2 separate regions of the Homo sapiens genome follow, and region 1 is linked to region 2. Evidence: fine-mapped expression QTL. A gene starts in region 2. The other region holds a variant in brackets. All regions are shown on one strand. Distances are from middle to middle. Region 1 has its middle 22 kb from the start of FKBP5. Region 2 holds the start of TEAD3 (TEA domain transcription factor 3).

Region 1 (10,435 bases), 210 kb after region 2:
ATATATATATATATATTTTTTTTTTTTTTTTTTTTTTTTTGGAGACAGTGTCTCACTCTGTCACCCAGGCTGGAGTGCAATGGCGTGATCTTGGCTCACTGCAACCTCTGCCTCCCAGGTTCAAGCAATTCTCCTGCCTCAACCTCCTGAGTAGCTGGGATTACAGGCACACACCACCATGCTCGGCTAATTTTTGTATTTTTAGTAGAGATGGGGTTACACCATGTTGGTCAGGCTGGTCTCGAACTCCTGACCTCATGATCTGCCCACTTCGGCCTCCCAAAGTGCTGGGATTACAGGCATGAGCCACTGTGCCCGGCCTGCAAATATATTTTAATTAAATCATGCAAATGAAATAATATAAAATATAGAAATAGTTCTAACTACCTATGGACATTTCAGAGCAGTGAGGAAACATTTAAGTATTCAGTACTAATGGTGGAAAAACTGATTAGCTATCTGGGGGTGAGGAGGGTGAGGGGAGCTAGGTCCTTACCTCATTTCTTACAACAAAAATACTCCAGATGAATCAAAGATCTGAAGGTAAAAGATGAAACTATAAAGATAATATAAGGGAAAATGTTGGCTAGATGCAGTGGCTCACACCTGTAATCCCAACACTTTGGGAGGCCCAGGCACATGGATCACTTGAGGCCAGGAGTTAGAGACCAGCCTTGCCAACATGGCACAACCCCGTCTCTACTAAAAATACAAAAATTATCCAGGTGTGGTGGCTTGCACCTGTAATCCCAGCTACTCGGTAGGCTGAGGCAGGAGAATCACTTGAACTGGGAGGCGGAGCTTGTAGTGAGCTGAGATGGCACCACTGCACTCCAGCCTAGGCAACAGAGCCAGACTCTGTCTCAAACAAACAAATAGTTTAGAAATACATAAGAGGGGCCAGGCGCAGTGGCTCATGCCTATAATCCCAGCACTTTGGGAGGCCGAGACGGGCAGATCACCTGAGGTCAGGAGTTCAAGACCAGCCTGGCTAATATGGTAAAACCCTGTCTCTACTAACAATACAAAAATTAGCTGTGCATGGTGGCGCATGCCTGTAATCCCAGCTAATCCGGAGGCTGAGGCAGGAGAATCACTTGAACCTAGGAGGCGGAGGTTGCAGTGAGCCAAGATTGTGCCATTGCACTCCAGCCTGGGCAACAAGAGTGAAACTCTGTCTCAAAAAAAAAAAAAAAAAAGAAAAGAAAAGAAAAAGAAAAAAGAAATACATAAGAGGATACTGCACCTCACTCATAATGAAAATTATGCAATTTAATATAATGATATGCCATTTGTATCTACTTGATTTAAAAGTTTGATAATATACAGTATAGGTAAGAATGTGGGAAACAGGGCAAAGCCATTTTCGTTTGTGGGAGTGAAGATTGTGTAACCTCTTTGTCAGACAATTTAGCAATGTTTATCAAATTTTAAAACCCACATACTCAATGACCTAATATTCCACTTCCAGGAATTCATTCTATAGCTGTACTCCTACATGTTGGCCAAACTATATATACAACGATGTTCTCTGCGGTATTTGTAACAGCAAGAAACTAAAGACAATTTGATCATCAGTAGCAGGGGATTGTTTTATTAAATTATGGCTTTGCCATTCAACATATGCAACAATTTAAAAGAATATGGTATGTATCTATGTGCTTACATAGAAAAATCTATAAAATATATTAGGTGAAAAAGCAAAGCATAGAACAGAGTATAATGGATACTCCCACTTCTACTTTTTAAAAATCTTATATGTATAGTTAAATGTAATTAAAGTCCCAGTGGAACTTTATGGAAAGATATGCAAGAAACTCTTAACGGTGGTTATGCCTAAGGGGATGGGACTGGGAATCTAGGGAGGAAAAAGGACTCGTTTTTATTGTATTTCTCTTTATATTGTTTTAAGTTTATTACCAGATACTTGAACTACTTTCATAATTCAGATCACTGGTAAGTATGAGAAGACTTTTTTTTTTTTTTTTTTGAGATGGAGTTTCACTCTTATTGCCCAGGCTGGAGTGCAATGACGTGATCTCGGCTCACCACAACCTCTGCCTCCCAGTTTCAAGCAATTCTCCTGCCTCAGCCTCCCGAGTAGCTGGGATTACAGGCATGCACCACCACGGCCGGCTAATTTTTTTTTTTTGTATTTTTAGTAGAGACGGGGTTTCTCCATGATGGGGCTGGTCTCGAACTCCTGACCTCAGGTAATCCGCCCGCCTCGGCCTCCCAAAGTGCTGGGATTACAGGCGTGAGCCACCGCGCCCGGCCATGAAAAGACTTTTGACCTAACTTGTTTTTTTAACTTTTATTTTAGGTTCAGGGGTACATGTGCAGGTTTGTAATATAGGTGAACTCATGTTAAGGGAGTTTGTTGTACAGGTTATTTTGTCATCCAGGTACTAAGTTAGCACCCAAGAGTTATTTTTTCTGATCCTCTCCCTTCTCTCTCCTCCCACCCTCCACCCTCAAGTAAGCCCCAGTATCTGTTGTTCCCCTCTTTGTGTCCATGTGTTCTCATCATTTAGCTCCTACGTACATGTGAGAACATGCGGTATTTGGTTTTCTGTTCTTGCATTAGTTTGCTAAAGATAATGGCCTCCAGCTCCATGTTCTGGCAAAGGATATGATCTCCTGACTTCTGACCTAACTTGTGATAAGAAAAATGTAAACAAAGACCATGTTATACCTGTCAGAAAGATACATCATTTTCTCCCTAGAAGACTGCTACAGTTCTGTAATACAGTAGGTCGGTCAAGGTGTGGGAAAATATTATTGGTAAGAGCAAAGATTGATGAAACTTCTTCAGAGGGAAATTTGGCAATAACTAACACAGTCTTTGACCTGATAATTCCACTTCTAGGAATTTTTCCTGCAGAAATATTCCCATATATGCCAAGGAAGTAGGTAGGTATAAAGATCTAGTTCCTTACAGCATCATTTGTACTGAGTATAAATAACTTAAGGTCTGCCAACTGGTTAAATAAATAATGGTACATTCGTACAATGGAATTCTTTTTCTTGGGACAGAGTCTCCCTCTGTCACCCAGGCTGGAGTGCAGTGGTGTGATCTCAGCTCATTGCAACCTCCACCTCTCAGGTTCAAGAGATTCTCCTGCCTCAGCCTCCTGAGTAGCTGGGATGGGTGTGCACCACCACGCCTGGGTAATTTTTGTATATATAGTAGAGGTGGGCTTTCACCATGTTGGCCAGGCTGGTCTCAAACTCCTGACCTCAGGTGATCTACCCACCTTGGCCTCCCAAAGTGCTGGGATTACAAGCATGAGCCATTGCGCCTGGCCTTGTACAATGGAATTCTATATAGCATTTTTTTTTTTAATGAGGCAAATCTATGTATACTTGTAACAGAGATTGTTAGTTGTGCCCCAGTATCCATTCTTCTCTTCCCCTCTGATTTTTGAGCTGGGTATATGGCTATTTGGAATAAAGAATAAATTTCCCAGCCTCCTTTGCTGGTAGGTGTGCCCCTGTGTTCTTGTTAATGTTTTTGTTTGTTTGTTTGTTTGTTTTGCTGGATAGATGCAGATGTAATGGCAGGAGCTCAGACAGCCATATTGAAACATGAGGTAGAAGCCCCATGTTGAAGATGGCATAAAAATGACAGAAGGATCCTAGGTCCCTGATAATTATGGAATCCTGGTATTGCCTGGCCACTTACCTTTGGACTTCATTAGAGAGAGAAATCAATGTCTAATTTTGCAAGACACTGATATTTTTAATTTTCTTTCACTAGCAGCCAAACCTAATCTTAACTGATAGATATTATATTAGTCTGTTTTCACGCTGCTGATAAAGACATACCTGAGACTGGGCAAGTTACTAAAGAAAGAAGTTTAATTGGACTTACAGTTCTGCATAGCTGGGGAGGCCTCACAATCATGATGGAAGGCAAGGAGGAGCAAATCACATCTTACGTGGATATTGGCAGGCGAAGAGTGCTTGCACGGGAAAACTCCCCCTTATAGAACCATTGGATCTCGTGAGACTTATTCACTATTATGAGAACAGCATGGGAAAGACCTGCCCCCATGATTCAATTACCTCCTACTGGGTCCAAACCATATCACATATAATGATGTGGAATGATTTCTAAGATAAATTGTTAAATGCAAAAGCAAGGTGCAAGCAATGCATACAGTATGATACTATTTTTGGAAAAAAGTGCAGAAAGATATAACTATGTTCGCATATGGGCAACATTTTCCAGAAGTATATACTGTTTGAATTTTTCACCATGTGCAAATATAACTTATTCAAAAGTGAACTTTTAAAAATCAGTTTTAAACTAATTAAAAAATGATTTGTATTTCTAAACCATAACAATTTGATTTTTTAGAAATCAACATAGTTTGATGAAACTATGGTTGTTTTTTCTTTTCTTTCTTGTTTTCTATATTTGCAGGATTTTAAGATATTTACATGCAAAATAGAACAGTCCCAGACAATAAAAATAACTTATGCTTTAAATATTTCTGATTTGATGTCATGCAAACGCTTTCATTCCCAGGACCCCAAAGGTCAATATGTTGAACATACACTTTAGACTTGCAAGTCCATTCAGCAATATATATTGTGCATCTATGATCTTTAAAGCACTGCTTTTAGGTAAAAAAAAAAACAGACAAGAGATGTTTGTTCATGGAGCTGATGTTCTCACGGGACAAACAGGGTAATGCGATAAAAAGTCTTGAGAATTCCATTAGAGAGGGTAGTGAGGGAAGACCTCTGAGGAGGCAACATTTGTGCTAAGGCCCAAAAGATGAGAATTCCAGGAAATGATCCTAGCACATGCAGAAACAGAAGGATGCTCAGAGCAGTTGTGGAAGAACAAGGGGCAGGAAGAGTAGCTTCAGAAAAGGTAGCAGGGCAGCATCTGTGTGCTTCAGCGAGAGATCCTCTGCACCTAACCAGAAGTGCAAAACATAGGGCTGGGCGCAGTGGTTCATGCCTGTAATCCCAGCTCTTTGGGAGGCTGAGGTAGGAGGATTGCTTGAGCCCAGGAGTTCGAGACCAGCCTGGACAACATAGGAAACCCAGTCTCTACAAAACATAAAACAATTAACTGGGCATGGTGGTGTGCCTGCAGTTCCAGCTACTCAGTGGGAGGATCACCTGAGCCCAGGGAGGTTGAGGCTATAGTGAGTC[A/T]TGATTGCACAACTACACTCCAACCTGCGCTACAGAGTGAGATCTTGTCTCAAAAAAAAAAAGGTGTGAAAAATAAAAAGCCAATGATACCAAGAGCTGGTCAAAATGTGGAACAGTTGGAACTGTCATACTTTGCTGGTGAGAACATACAGTCACTTTGGAACACAGTTTAGCAGTTTTCTTTTGAAGTTAAGCATACACACATTTGCCATACGACTCAGCAATTCTGCTCCCAAGACAAATAAAAACATGTGTCCTCAAAAGGAGCTGTAGAAGAGTGTTCACAGCAACTTTTTCATAATAGCCCAAAATGACAAACAACCATAATGTCCATCAACAGGAGAATGAATAAACAAACTATGGTATAACCATCTAGTGGAATACAATACAGCAATAAAAAGGAACACACTACTTAATATGTGCAAAAACACGAACAAATCTTATAAACATTAAGTTGAGCAAAAGAAGCCAAGATACAAAAGAGTATATACTGTGTGACTCCATTTATGTAAAATTCTAGAAAATATAAATCTAATCTATACTGGTAGAAAGCAGACTGGACCGGGTAGGGATGGGCCCTTGCTTGGGCCAGGTAGCGATTGATTGCAAAAAGAAACAAACACAGCCAGTGCAGTGGCTCATGCCCGTAATCCCATCACTTTGGGAGGCTGAGGTAGGCAGATGGCTTGAGTCCGCGAAGTCAAGACCAGCTTGGGCAACATGGTGAAACTCTGTTTCTACAAAAAGAAAAAAAAGCCAAGAGTGGTGGCTCGCACCTGTAGTCCCAGCTACTTGGGAGGCTGAAGTGAGAGGATCACTTGAGTCTGGGAAGTTGAGGCTGCAGTGAGCCATGATCTCGCCACTGCACTCCAGCCTGGGCGACAAAGTCCCTGTCTCAAAAGAAAAAAAAAAAAAAAAGAAGGCCGGGAGCTGTGGGTCATGCTGTAATCCTAACAGTTTGGGAGGCCAAGGTGGGTGCATCACCTGAGGTCAGGAGTTCAAGACCAGCCTGGCCAACATGGTGAAACCCTGTCTCTACTAAAAATACAAAAATTAGCTGGGCTTGGTGGCGGGTGCCTGTAATCCCAGCTACTCAGGAGGCTGAGGCAGGAGAATTGCTCGAACCCGGGAGGTGAAGGCTACAGTGAGCTGAGGCCGTGCCACTGTGCTCCAGCCTGGGCAACAGAGCAAGACTCCACTTCAAAAAAAAGGAGAGGAGAGGAGAGGAGAGGAAAGGAAAGAAAGAAAAGAAAAAGAAACAGGGAAGCTTTTAGAGTGGAGGAATTAATCTATATTGTGATAGACATTACACAGGTAAACATTTGTCAAAACTCATCAAACTGTACACTTAAATGGGTGCATTTTATCATAAGTAAATTATGCGCATGTAAAGTTGATTTAAAACACACAGTGTGTGTGTGTACTTACTAGTCTGGTACATTATGTTTCTACTTCTGTCTGTTTTTTTGTTTTTGTTTTTTGAGACAGTCTCGCTCTATCGCCCAGGCTAGAGTGCAGTGGTGCAATCATAGTTCACTGTAACCTTGAACTCCTGGCTCATGATCCTCCTACTTAAGCCTCCCAAGTTGCTGGGACTACAGGTGTGTACAATCGCACTGGGCTAATTAAAAAAAAAAAAAAAAAAGTAGAAACAGCGTGTCCCTATGTCGCCCAGGCTGGCCTCAAACTTCTGGGCTCAAGCAATCCTCCCGCCTCAGCCTCCCAAAGTGCTGGGATTATAGGCATGAGCCACACCTGGCCTCTCTGTATTTTCTAGAAAATAGCTTGCGAATAATTGTTTGTTACCCGCTCTCTTTTTTCCCTTTATCCCCTGCGCCAAAGTGAATTAAGCCTGTCACCTGGAATTTCTAACTATTAAGGCCAACTCCATCATCTCAACCCTTGCCACAGAGTTGTTTGTTTGTTTCCATTTTACAGGGGAATCTTAGAGAAGGCTTTTGCAGAATGGGAGGTGTCAGGAGAAAGCCCCAGAAGGGGGTAAGGAGGGTAAGGGGTGGTAGGTATCTTCCAGGGAGATATGCCTGGAAGTTCAAAGAGAAGCATTGAGACCCTTATGGTTTGCTAAGGAAGAGCTAGTTGGGCCTGGCACTAGGAAAGGGCCCAGGCTTTGTTTTGTAAGCCAGTTCTCTCACTACCTGCCCCTTCACAGCAAGGAGCCAGATTTGTCTACCATCCTGTCCTAGTTCTCAGAGATCCGAGGGCTGTCATTGCATAGCTAGATCCTGCTTTCACCCTGTCATGCAAACCGCCAACAGGTATCTCCCAAGCCTGGCAACATGCAGGGTGGTAAGCTGGCTACCCTCAGGGAGATGCTGAGGCACCAGTGCCTTGTCTTCTGAGACTCACTTCTGATGGCAGGAACTGGGCTGACCCTAGAACTGAAGCTGGCCGTGTGGCCTGGGCACTCCCCAAAACTACTTAGTAAACCTTCATCACAGTTTTGCTTTCCTGTTCAGGTCCTGTGGGCACAAAGCAAAACTAATTTTATCCCAAAGCCAGGTGTGGTGGTGGGTGCCTGTAGTCCCAGCTACTCGGGAGGCTGAGGTGGGAGGATCACTTGAGCCCTGGAGGTTAAGGCTGCAGTGAGCCGTGATCACGCTACTGCACTCCAGCCCAGGCGACAATGCAAGATCTGGTCTCTAAAAAAAAAAAAAAAAAAAAAAAAAAGAAGAAGAAGAAAGAAAGAAAAAAATCTTATAACATGAAGCCAGTATTAGTAGAGTGGGCATAAGCGGGTGGGGCAAAAAGAGGGGAGTGACTCCTTGGGGCATGTGGTGAGTGAGGAGGATGTGGCTCAGGTCAATGGGAGCCACACTTGTTGGGGGAACCTTAGGACTAGAATGAGGCAGCAGCCAAGGCCAAATCCTGTGGCCTAGAAGAGGGACAGCCCAATGGAATTTTGCCTCATTATGAAGACCGTTGGCTCCAGTGACAATATTAGCTAATGTCTACTAGGCACTTAATGAAGCTGGTGGTCTAGATGGTCTAAGGTGCCTTCACTAATTTAATCTCCAACAACAACCTTATGAGGTAGACACTACCACCCTTTGACAGTTAAGGAAATGAAGGCACAGAGGTTTTAAAAGACCTACCCTTCTAGCAAGCAGCACAGCTGTGACATATGCTCTAAGTCACAGCACCTCTCAGAAGTCAGTGTAGGAGGCTGAAGCTGCTAGCTGGCGGGTGGGGGCCCAAGGAGCAGCAAACGCTCCTGCCCTGGGGATTCTCCTGTGAGCTTTTTCCCAGACTTAAATGCTCAATTTGCATAAAGGGTAGCAGAGAATGTAAAAAGCAGCCACTTGTCCAAAACTGTGCAGCCACCCAGAAGGGTTGTGACCTGCCTCTCCGGACTCACACCCTCACATCCTCTCTCCCCTGCCTTCTTGCCCCACCTGTCCAACTACTAAGCCTTGGGGTCCAAATATTTTCTTGACTTCCTGCCCTTCTCCCTTCCCTCTGATTGTCAAAATCTGTCAAGACTCAGCCCAAATCTCACCTCTTCCAGAAATCCCTCACAGACATCCCTGATTGGAACAATTCTGTCCCCAGCCCATCCACTGAGATGTGAGGCTCTTTCAACTGAGGCCTGGGGTCACTTCTCAGGGGGTCTGTCTCCCTGGGGGCATAAAACCACAGGGCTTGCTTAGTAAGGAGCTGACACCCACCCATGGTTAAGCAGGTCCTTAAGGGGTTATGAGGACATCTCTCTTTACTGACTTGAAAAATCTTAGGCGGCCAGGCACAGTGGCTCACACCTGTAATCCCAGCACTTTGGGAGGCTGAGGTGGGTGGATCACCTGAGGTCAGGAGTTCAAGACCAGCCTGGCCAACATGGTGAAACCCCGTCTCTACTAAAAATACAAAAATTAGCCGGGCGTGGTGGCATGTGCCTGTAATCCCAGCTACTCAGGAGGCTGAGGCAGGAGAATTGCTTGAACCCAGGAGGCAGTGGTTGCAGTGAGCCGAGATGGAGACATTGCACTTCAGCCTGGGTGACAAGAGCGAAACACTGCCTCAAAAAAAAAAAAAAAGAAAAGAAAAACAAGATGTATAGGATTTTACTCTCAAAATGTATTTTCTTCAAAATACTCTGTGTTCTGCTGGGTGTGGTGGCTCACGCCTGTAATCACAGCACTTTGGGAGGCCAAGGTGGGCAGATCACCTGAGGTCAGGAGTTTGAGACCAGCCTGGCCAACATGACAAAACCCCATCTCTACTAAAAATACAAAAATTAGCTGAGCATGGTGGCGGGAGCCTGTAATCCCAGCTACTTGGGAGGCTGAGGCATGAGAATCGCTTGAACCTGGGAGATGGAGGTTGCAGTGAGCTATCGTGCCATTGCACTCCAGCCTAGGCAACAAGAGTGAAACTCTGTCTCAAAAAAAAAAAAAAAATTCTGTGTTCTATAAAAATAAAATAGGTTTAGCGTGGCAGATGTCTTACATAAATGAAGGTGAGCCCTACTTCTTCATTCCATTAAATTTATTTATTAATTTTTTTAATTTGGAAAGAAAAGGCTGGAGTGTAGTCGCACGATGTCGGCTCACTGCAACCTCCACCTCCTGGGTTCAAGCGATTCTCCTGCTTTAGCCTCCCAAGTCTATAGGTGCATGCCACCACGCCTGCGTAATTTTTGTATTTTCAGTAGAGACAGGTTTTCACCATGTTGGCCAGGCTGCTCTTGAACTCCTGGCCTCAGGTGATCCACCCGCCTTGGCCTCCCAAAGTGCTGGGATTACAGGTGTGAGCCACTGCTCCTGGCATTCCATTAAATGTTAATGAGTCCATTCATTTATTCATTTCACAGCATCTTCAGCCAAACTGGCTGTGAGTAAATCCCACTCCGCCACTTACTAGGCACGTCAGCTTAGGTCAATTGGTTACTTCATCTCTCCGTGTATCATTTTTCCCAACTAGAAGATGGAGATGATAATGATAGTACCTATCAAGGTTGTTATGAGGCTTAAACAAGCTTATATATATATGCTTGTTTATATATATGTATGTGCAAAGTAATCAGAACAGTGCCATTATTGCCAGCACTATTATAAAATGTGTTCCAATAGAGACAAAGAGGGCCCCCCTCAGTCTAGAAAGATTTGGAGTTCCTTGCTAGGTCAAGGAGGAAAGGGCATCCAGGCAGCAGGAACGGCATGTACAAAGGCTCAGAGGTGTACACCAGTACAGCAAGCTGAGGGAACCAGGAGGAATTCCATGAGGCTGGAACTTAACGTGCAGCTGG
Region 2 (8,273 bases):
CATACACACAGCATCGTGCGAGTGCGGTGTCCTTCACACGCAGGTCACTTGAGCATCAGAGCCACACCCAGTGTCATCTCCAGGTACACACAGATGGCTAGGCAGCCAGCTTCCTTCATCGGCACATCCTGGGTGATGCCCTGGCACACACAGAACATCCCCCATGCAGGTTCTCAGGTACAGAGGTGGCGGCACACCTGGACACATGAAGAGTCACCCAGTTTCTCTTATGGACGTGTATATCTGTCACACACACGAATGTCACAAAGCCACAGTTTCTCTCCTGCATACACCCAGCCCTGCACAAGTTGCTCTGACCAAGGTTCTCTTCCACACACATCCAGCCCCACAGAAGACAAGTCTCACCCACATAGAATGTCCCACTCATGGCTTCTCTCACACACATCCAGCGTCACACACAGTTGCATTCTCATTTCCCTCTAACACTTCCTGCCCTTTCAGGCCTGGCAGGGAGCACAGGAAACAATCGGCACTCTAGGAAACCCCAAGGGCTGAGGCTTTAGGGATGTGCAGGGGGATGAACCTCTCTGGCCCTAACCTCAACCTCCTGTGGGTCGGGGAAGACAGGCAGAGCCCTTTCCCTGGCAGGGTTCTCCCTGGAGGGAAGTGGCCCCTTCTGCAGACAGCCCAGGGCTGGCACAACACCAGGAGGGGAGGGGAGGGAAGGCAGGGCAAGGCCCCAGGGACAGTGCCGAGTGTGACCTGCTGACCTCCCCAGCTCTACCCAGAGGCAGATCCTCAGGGCCACCCCTGGGACCCCACAGCTTCTGCAGCCCCCATGTGGGAAGAAGAGGCTGCGACCTCCTAGCCCCTTCACAGAAAGCTGCAGCGTTTAGACCCCTGGGCTCCTCTCCCCATCCTGGGCGGGGAGGAGGAGGAGGGCAGGACCAGCGATTTCCACACTGAGCCCTGGGACCCCCACAGGTGTCTGGGAGTGGGGCAGAGGGTAGAGCCACCCAAGCGGCCTCTGAGCACCCTTTGTGCCATTCAGCCCTAACAGAACCCATGACCACTTCAGAGGCAAGATCCCCCAATCCACCAAGCCCCCCTGTCCCTTGACACCTGCCCCCCGCCACCTTTTCAGCCCTGTTCATCTGGCTGAGCTACTCCTCAGTCACCCCTTGGTTTGTCCTTGCCTTCTTCTTTGGGCCACTGGATCACCCACCCGCCTCTCCAGACCCCACCAAGTTCAGGTTCCATCATGGGAGAAGGAAGGCAAACTGGGAGACAGACTCTGGGAGGAGCTCAGAGAAAAGGGACTTGAGAAGTCATTCATTCCAAGCAGGGAAACTGAGGCCCAAAGGGGCCTGCCAAGATGGCGCAACTGGTTAAAGGTCCGGAGGGGACCAGATCCCTATTTCTTGACCACCTCTGTTGAGATATCTTCTCCTTTGATATTGTTGAGAATATCAAATCCTCCCGGTTTTAACATTCCTTCAGTTGGCAGAAAGTGCCAGGGTCTACAAACCTTTGGGTGAGGATGGGAGCAGGGCTCAGGACCCATGTGATGCTTCTGTACACTTAATGTGCTGCTCTGTCCTGGCAACCACTGACCACTCTAACAAGCCATTCCCCAGCCCAGATGCGCTCATTAGCATTAATGACGTTCCCTCCCTGGGGGGGTAGGGGAAGGCCCAAGAGCTTGGGACTCATACTGGCTCCTACCCTCTCCCTGAGGAGGGGGCATCCAGGGCCCCTGAAGTTACCCTTACTGGACAGCCTTGTCCTGGAAGATCTGTGCACTCTGCCCACTGGGTGAGCAGGGACCCAGAAGACCACAGAACCACATCCTTTAGGGAGTGCCCCTACGAGAGGGGTCTTGGTGGGAGGGGGGCTACAGGAGTCTAGAAGGGAGAGGACATAATTCCCCCAAATCTCCAACTTTTGAGGAAAGCCTCCCCTCCTTGCCCCAGGTGGCCCCAGCACTGGGGTGGAACATGTGTACAGAGAACCAGGCCACAAGAGACTGGATACGCAGAGCCGCTATGGGCACCAGCCCCTCTGAGCTGTGTCCAGCCCCTACCCCTATGCCCTGTTCTTCCGGACAACAAGTCCAGGCCTGACCTGGTTCTGCCCCTACCTGGAAAGAGGGAAGACACAGAAGAAGACAGCCCCTGAGAAGTCCGCCCCAAGGCCTCCTTCCCCCTCGCACTGAAAGAATCTCTCAGCCCTGGATCAGGGCCCCTCACCAGGAAAGTTGACAGAGCGGGGTCTCAATGACACTGCCCCAGGGCCCAGCTGGGCTGGAAAACAGATCCAGACCAGCGCTCCCAGCCCTCCCTCCCCTAGCAGGAATAAAGGGCATGACAGACAATGGTGGGGACCGGGGTAGGAAGCGGGAGACCAGCCACCCTCAAACCTTGTCAAGTCTAAACAAGGGCCCTGAGCAAGTGTGGGGAAGAAAAGGCCCCAAATCCAGACCCCTCCGAGCCAAGCTCACAGCGCTCAGGGCTGGAACTCTGAATCAGCACCCCGACGCAGGCGGCAGAACTGAAGGGAACGTGAGCCCCTCCCTGCCTCTCAGGGGACACACGGCCGGGGCGCGCGGCTTTGGTCCCAGACACCCTCCACAACCCAGCGCAGCCGCGGCACCGCGCGCAGAAACCGGCCTGGGCGCTGGGAGGCCGGGCCCGAGGCCTGCGTGGAGCTGAGGCCGGGCGGGCTCCGGGAGCGCGCGGGCCGGGAGTCCAAAGGGCGGCGGGGCCCGGGACTGGGCGCCCCGGATATGAGCTCCAGGGTGGCAGGCAGGCCCTCCACACTGTGCGGCCCCCGGATCCCCGCCCCGACCCCCCAAGCACGGACGGCGGGACAGGCGACGGCACAGGGGACACGGTCTCCCCGGCTTCCCCACCTTCCCGGACCAACTCGTCCCCGTCGCGGGGGGGTGGGGAGGGCGGGGGGCGGGGCTTCCCGGAGAGATTTTCCCCCTTCCCTCTAAACTTCCCGGCACCCCGATCCGGGGCTCCAGCTCCGGCTGGACAATAGCTCGGGGACCCAGTCCCCCTCGAGTGTCGCCCCCCCAGCCAGCCCAGCCGACCAACCAAACCACCTCTCCCGAGCGGGGCCTCCTCCCGGCGTCCGCCCGGCTTACCTGGTCCGAGCTCGCGGGGGCGCTCCGGCCGGGCCGCTCCGCCGGGCCCGAGGGAGCCGCAAGGGGGGCCGGGGAAGGGGGGTCGTGGGGAGGGGGCTGGCCGGAATGTGCGGAATGAGCCGGGCTGGAGCGGGAGGCGCCGAGCGCGGAGGAGGGAGCGAGCGGGACGGAAAGTTTGTGTTGAGGAGCCGGGGCGGGGGTGGGGGCTGCGGGAAGGAGGGGGCGGGGCGCGCAGGGGGCGGTGCTGGCCGGGAGGGGCGGGGCCGTCCAGCCGCGCTCGGGCCGCCTACCCCGCGGCCTCGCGACCCGGCCACCCCGGCTGGCGCGCGCCTGGGCGCCCCGCTCCTCGCCCGCCCGTGCGGAGCTGCCTTCCTCCCCCTGCGCTCCGGGCCTCGCCCCGCTCCCGGGCACCCGCCGGAATTTGGGGCTCCGGCCTGGGGCGGGGCCGAGGGCGGAGCCCTCGCCTCGCGGGCAGGGCTCCCGTCGGTGCCGGGGGCCGTGGGTGCCGCGTCACGAGGAGCCCGGCAGAGCCGGAGCGCACGGGCCCCGGGGCTCCCGGCCCCTCCACCCTAGTCCCGAGCCGCCAAGGCGGAGCGTACCCTCCAGCTCGCGGGCCTGCCCCCCACTCCCGGGGCCCCAGACCCGGCTCCGCCCTGGCGGCTGCGCCCGCCCTGCCGGGACCCGGTTTGTCTGGTTCTCCCCGCGTGGCTAGTTTCTCGAATTTCTTCTCCCTTTCTCCCTCTTCCCCGACCTCCGGGACCCTCCCTTTCGCCCCGGCTCCCCGGGCCCCCACGGGGGGCGTCTCGACGCTGTGCGGCCGCCGAGTTTCGGTAGGACCCGCGACGGGCGCGGGGAGGGGACGCGGGAGCGCCCGGGGCCTGGGCAGGAGTGGGACGGGGGTTGAGACTTCCAGCTCGCGCCTCGGACGCCTCCTGCCGCCTCGTTCTCCGCACGCGCTGAGGAACCACCGCTCCGCTTGGCCAAGGACGCGGCTTTATTGGGGATGTGGGTGCCTGGCCCTCGTCCCCCATCACCTACCCCCTCCTCCTAGCCCGCCCCAGCTCCTCGGAGCCCTAGCGCGGTCCCGGGGAGAGGGGAGGTTAAAACAACAATGACTACTGCTCCCGGACAGGAAGTGACTGGGGCGCGGGGAGGAGGGGGGCACAGCGGCGCAGGCGAGCTCCGAGACCAGATGTGCGGCTCCAACTCCAGATGTTCTTCATCTCCGTCCTACCCGCCGTCCGGGCTCCTCCTGCCTCGGCCTGTGCCAGGCTGGGGAGAGGACGGAGGTCACCGAGAGGCAGTGAGAGGTCAGCCCCGACACAGGAGCAGTTTTCCGCGGGAGCTTTGCTGGAGGGACCCTGCCAGCCTCCACTGAATCCTTTCCCCCACGCTGACGGGCTCTGGGGGCGCTGAGGGGCTGCTGGGGTCACTCGCAGGCCAGCTTCCCGTCGAAACTGGAGAGGGCGATGGCGAAGGCCTGCAGGGCGCACAGCGGGTACCGGTAGTCTAGGGTGAAGGCGTCCTCCGCCACGCGGCCGAACTGCAGCACGATATAGTCGGCTATGGACACAAGACGGGGTGGGGGCGGCCCGAGACCTCCTTGGACCCCCATCCTGGCAGACAGTGCCCTCAACCTTGGGGGCAGTCTGTCCCTTGCCTTGGGGCTCCAACCCTCAGCCACCATCTCAGTTACTCAACACCCATCCCTTCTTCTATCTCACTCCACACCAGCACCACGTGGCTTTGCAGTCACACTATAATCTCCTGGGGGCAGGGACCTTGCCTTTCTGCTGCTGCCACAGGCCATGCCTAGAGCCCGCACCTGATTAACTATAGGACCCTGTCAAATTTATCCAAGCCCAGCATTCTTCCTTCCCAAATTCTCTGTTGTTTCTGGCCACAGTCTTTCCTCCTATCCCCAGCCACGAAGTCCCACCTTAGACCCCAGCTCCACCCCTTGACTAGCCCCTGGTTCCCTTCCTCAGCCTCACTGGGCACCTCTCCCTTCAATGATCCAGGTTCCCAGCCCCAACCTCAGCACCTCCCCCAGGATCCATAGGGACAGGAAGTTGCTAAAAATACCCCCAAACTCAGGTGGACGAGGCTCCACCAGAAACGTGATCTGGAGAGCAGTCCCACAGCCACAGGACAGGTGGCACTGGGGGCACATCCCTAGGATGCAGTTGGGGCTCGCTCAATGTTGGTCCAACCCTGTGAACCCAGAGACTTATGGGAGATACCCTTCCATCCCCAAACTTCCTCACCCTAGTGGGAAGGAAGCCTTTCCAACCAAGGCTTGTAACAGGGACACCTTGTTTCCCTGAGTCTTCCAGGGTAGTCCTTTGACCTCACTTGAGAGAAGACACAGAGTAGGCACTCAAAAATGCTTAATATTCCCTGCCCCTAAAAGGCAACCATCTTGAAGAGATTAAGAGCATGGCCACTGGAGATCCAGACTGTCAGCTCTACCTCCTACTAGTGATGTGACCGTGGGCAAGTTGCTTAACCTCTCTGTGCCTTAGTTTCCTGCCAAATAGGGATAATAATGGCACTCTTCACAGGGACGTTGAAGGGATTTAATGATTCAGTTATCTGTAAAATCCTGAGAACAGTGCCTGGCACATAGTAAACACTGTGTAAGTTTTGTGAAATAAATTTCGAGGGCCAGTGTAACTTCCTGAAGTTGCTGAGAGACTCTGGGCAAAGGGCTGCCCTCTCTGAGCCTCAGCACTCTCTTTGAACAAAGAGGAGTTGGGCTGTCCGTGGTTTTCAGACTCTAGGAGCCAACCCTCCCTTCAACACAATCTTATCCAGAATGTCCCAGTATCTAACCCACTGCTCTGGCCAATGCTGGAATGGGAACCTGAAGTGATGAGCCCCAAGACACCTGCTTAGAATATCTGAGGCTCCTGAGAGCACAGTGTCAGTGCCTATGGAGGAGAGAGTGACCCTGTGGGATGTCCCAGCTCTCGGGATAAAGGCTGGTGTGTGTGTGTGTGAGGGGGTGAGGGGAGCTTGAATGAAGGTCAGCATCCTGGGGGTGGTGGAGAAGAGCCAGACCTGGGCCCTCAGGTACTCACGGTCATCAGCGTGGACAATCTGGAAGTTCTTGACTGAGGCCTGGGTGACCCGGCCTTGGAAGTTGAGGGTGTAGGAGCCACTGTCATCGTTCCAGACAGGTGGCTTGTTGTGCAGTTCTATGAGGCTCTCCAGCGTCTTGTTCTGCCAGCGCACCAGCAGGCCGTCACTAGCCTGGGGTGCCCCAGGGGAGTAGACAGGGAGAGGACAGTTAGAGATGGCTGAGATGGCTCAGGACTGACCGGAGAAGGGGCCTGGGCATGTGTGCACAGGGGTGTGGCCTGGACATCTTCATCCATTAGGGTATCTGAGAATAGGCTTGGCATCTGTGGCATCCTTGTGGACAGGGTTCACATCTGTGAGAATGGGGCTTTGTCTCTGGGATGTCAAAGCGGAGGGCTGGAAAATGGCAAGGGGCATCTGGCACATAGGCGCTCCATGCCATTGGTACCCAGGTGGTCTTAGGAGACAGACACACACCAGTACCTAATGACAGGATGAGCCAATCTTGGACCTGCAAAGGGCACACAGTTGAGCTGGGGAGATGGATAGGTAAATTGCAGTTAAGAGAAAGTGTACTTGGAGGAGAGTTTCTGAAAGGAAGGAGCAGGGTCTGTATAATGTGCCCTTAAGATCTTTCTTTCTTGAGTTTCCTTGTCGCCTGCTCACGTTCATGGATTAGAGTGAGTCCACTCAAGATCACCTCCAAGAAGCCTTCCTGACCCCCCATCTGATTTAGATGTCTCAGCTCTGAGTTTCCATGACACCTTGCTCTTACCATTCCTCCCACTGCACTGTAATTGGCAAAAGAGAGACCCGAAACAGCACCAGGCATTTCTTACTGGGCCCAAACAAGGGCAGGAGATGCTGCCTCTGGGGGATTTGTGTGTTTATTCCAGGCATAGGAAGGACAACTGTGGGGCCCACAGGCTGAGTGAACCCTCAAGACTGAGCCTCCCATGACTGGTGCCCTGCAGATCAGCCTGGGCCGTGACTTTCCAGCAGGGAAGGATGTGTGATCAGCTGACGGGGTATTATCTTTCATTGTAAATGAGTAAAATGACATCAGTCTCCTGTGAGGATGGGGCATGCGAGTCACCCAGAGTCTCTTAAATCCTGGACTCACTGGACCTGCAGTGCTAAAGAGCAGAGCACGGGACTGACACGTCTCTCCAGAACATCTCTCCATCTTAAACTCACACACACACACACGCAAAACAACTTTTGCTTTTTAAAATACAAGTCATGCCAAGCACAGTGGCTCACGCATATAATCCCAACACTTTGAGAAGCCGAGACGAGAGGATCACTTCAGGAATTTAAGACCAGCCTGGGCAACAAAGTGAGACCCTGGCTCTACAAAAAACTAGCCAGGTATGGTGGCATGTGCCTAGGGTCTCAGCTACATGAGAGGCTGAGGCAGGAAGCAGCACTGTTTGAAGCCAGGAGGTCGAGGCTGCAGTAAGTCATGATCATACCACTGTACTCTAGCCTGGGCTGGAGTGAGACCCAGAGTGAGACTCGGTCTCAGAAAAAAAAAAAAAAAAAAAAGGCTGGGCACAGTGGCTCAGGCCTGTAATCCTAGCACTTTGGGAGGCTGAGGCAGGTGGGTCACTTGAGGTCAGGAGTTCAAGACCAACCTGGCCATCATGGCAAAACCGCGTCTCTACTGAAAATACAAAAATTAGCTGAGCATGGTGGTATGCACCTGTAATCCCAGCTACTCGGGAGGCTGAGGCAGGAGAATCTCTTGAACCTGGGAAGTAGAGGTTGCAGTGAGTTGCGATCAGGCCATTGCACTCCAGCCTGGGTTACAGAGCGAGACTCCGTCTCAAAACAAAAACAAAAACAAAAACAAGTCATGTCACTCCTTTGCTCAAAACCCTGCTGTAGCTTCCCATTTCTCTCAGAGCAAAAATCAGTTTTAAAGACCCTGTCTACCCCTCACTTCTCTGACCTCCTCTCCCCCCAGCCACACTGGTCACCTGGTGGTTCCTCCAGTCCACCAGGGCCCCTCCTGCCACAGGACCTTTGCACTGGCTCTTCCCACTGCCCAGGTGCTCTTCCCCCAGATATCTGT

Evidence for each region. PIP is the estimated chance that this variant, and not a neighbour inherited with it, causes the effect.
Region 1: its variant is fine-mapped to the expression of TEAD3 in whole blood (TOPMed, PIP above 0.99).

What each region holds. Positions count from the first base shown.
Region 1 is chr6:35,705,244-35,715,678 of GRCh38, forward strand. It overlaps a transcript of FKBP5 not described here. Among named protein-coding and RNA genes, the nearest start is that of FKBP5, 22 kb to the left of the region's middle. The variant A/T (reference allele first, on the strand shown) is at 5,173.
Region 2 is chr6:35,493,786-35,502,058 of GRCh38, forward strand. It overlaps TEAD3 (TEA domain transcription factor 3), which reads right to left and starts at 3,294. Exons shown (of 13, transcript NM_003214.4): 1 at 3,113-3,294. It overlaps TULP1 (TUB like protein 1), which reads right to left. Exons shown (of 15, transcript NM_003322.6): 14 at 6,196-6,367; 15 at 4,089-4,675. The coding sequence ends at 4,542. It overlaps LOC124901309 (a long non-coding RNA gene), which reads left to right and starts at 4,348. Exons shown (of 2, transcript XR_007059561.1): 1 at 4,348-4,422. RefSeq lists enhancers at 1,538-2,323, 3,270-4,200, 4,201-5,130 and silencers at 3,102-3,151, 3,332-3,461, 3,472-3,801.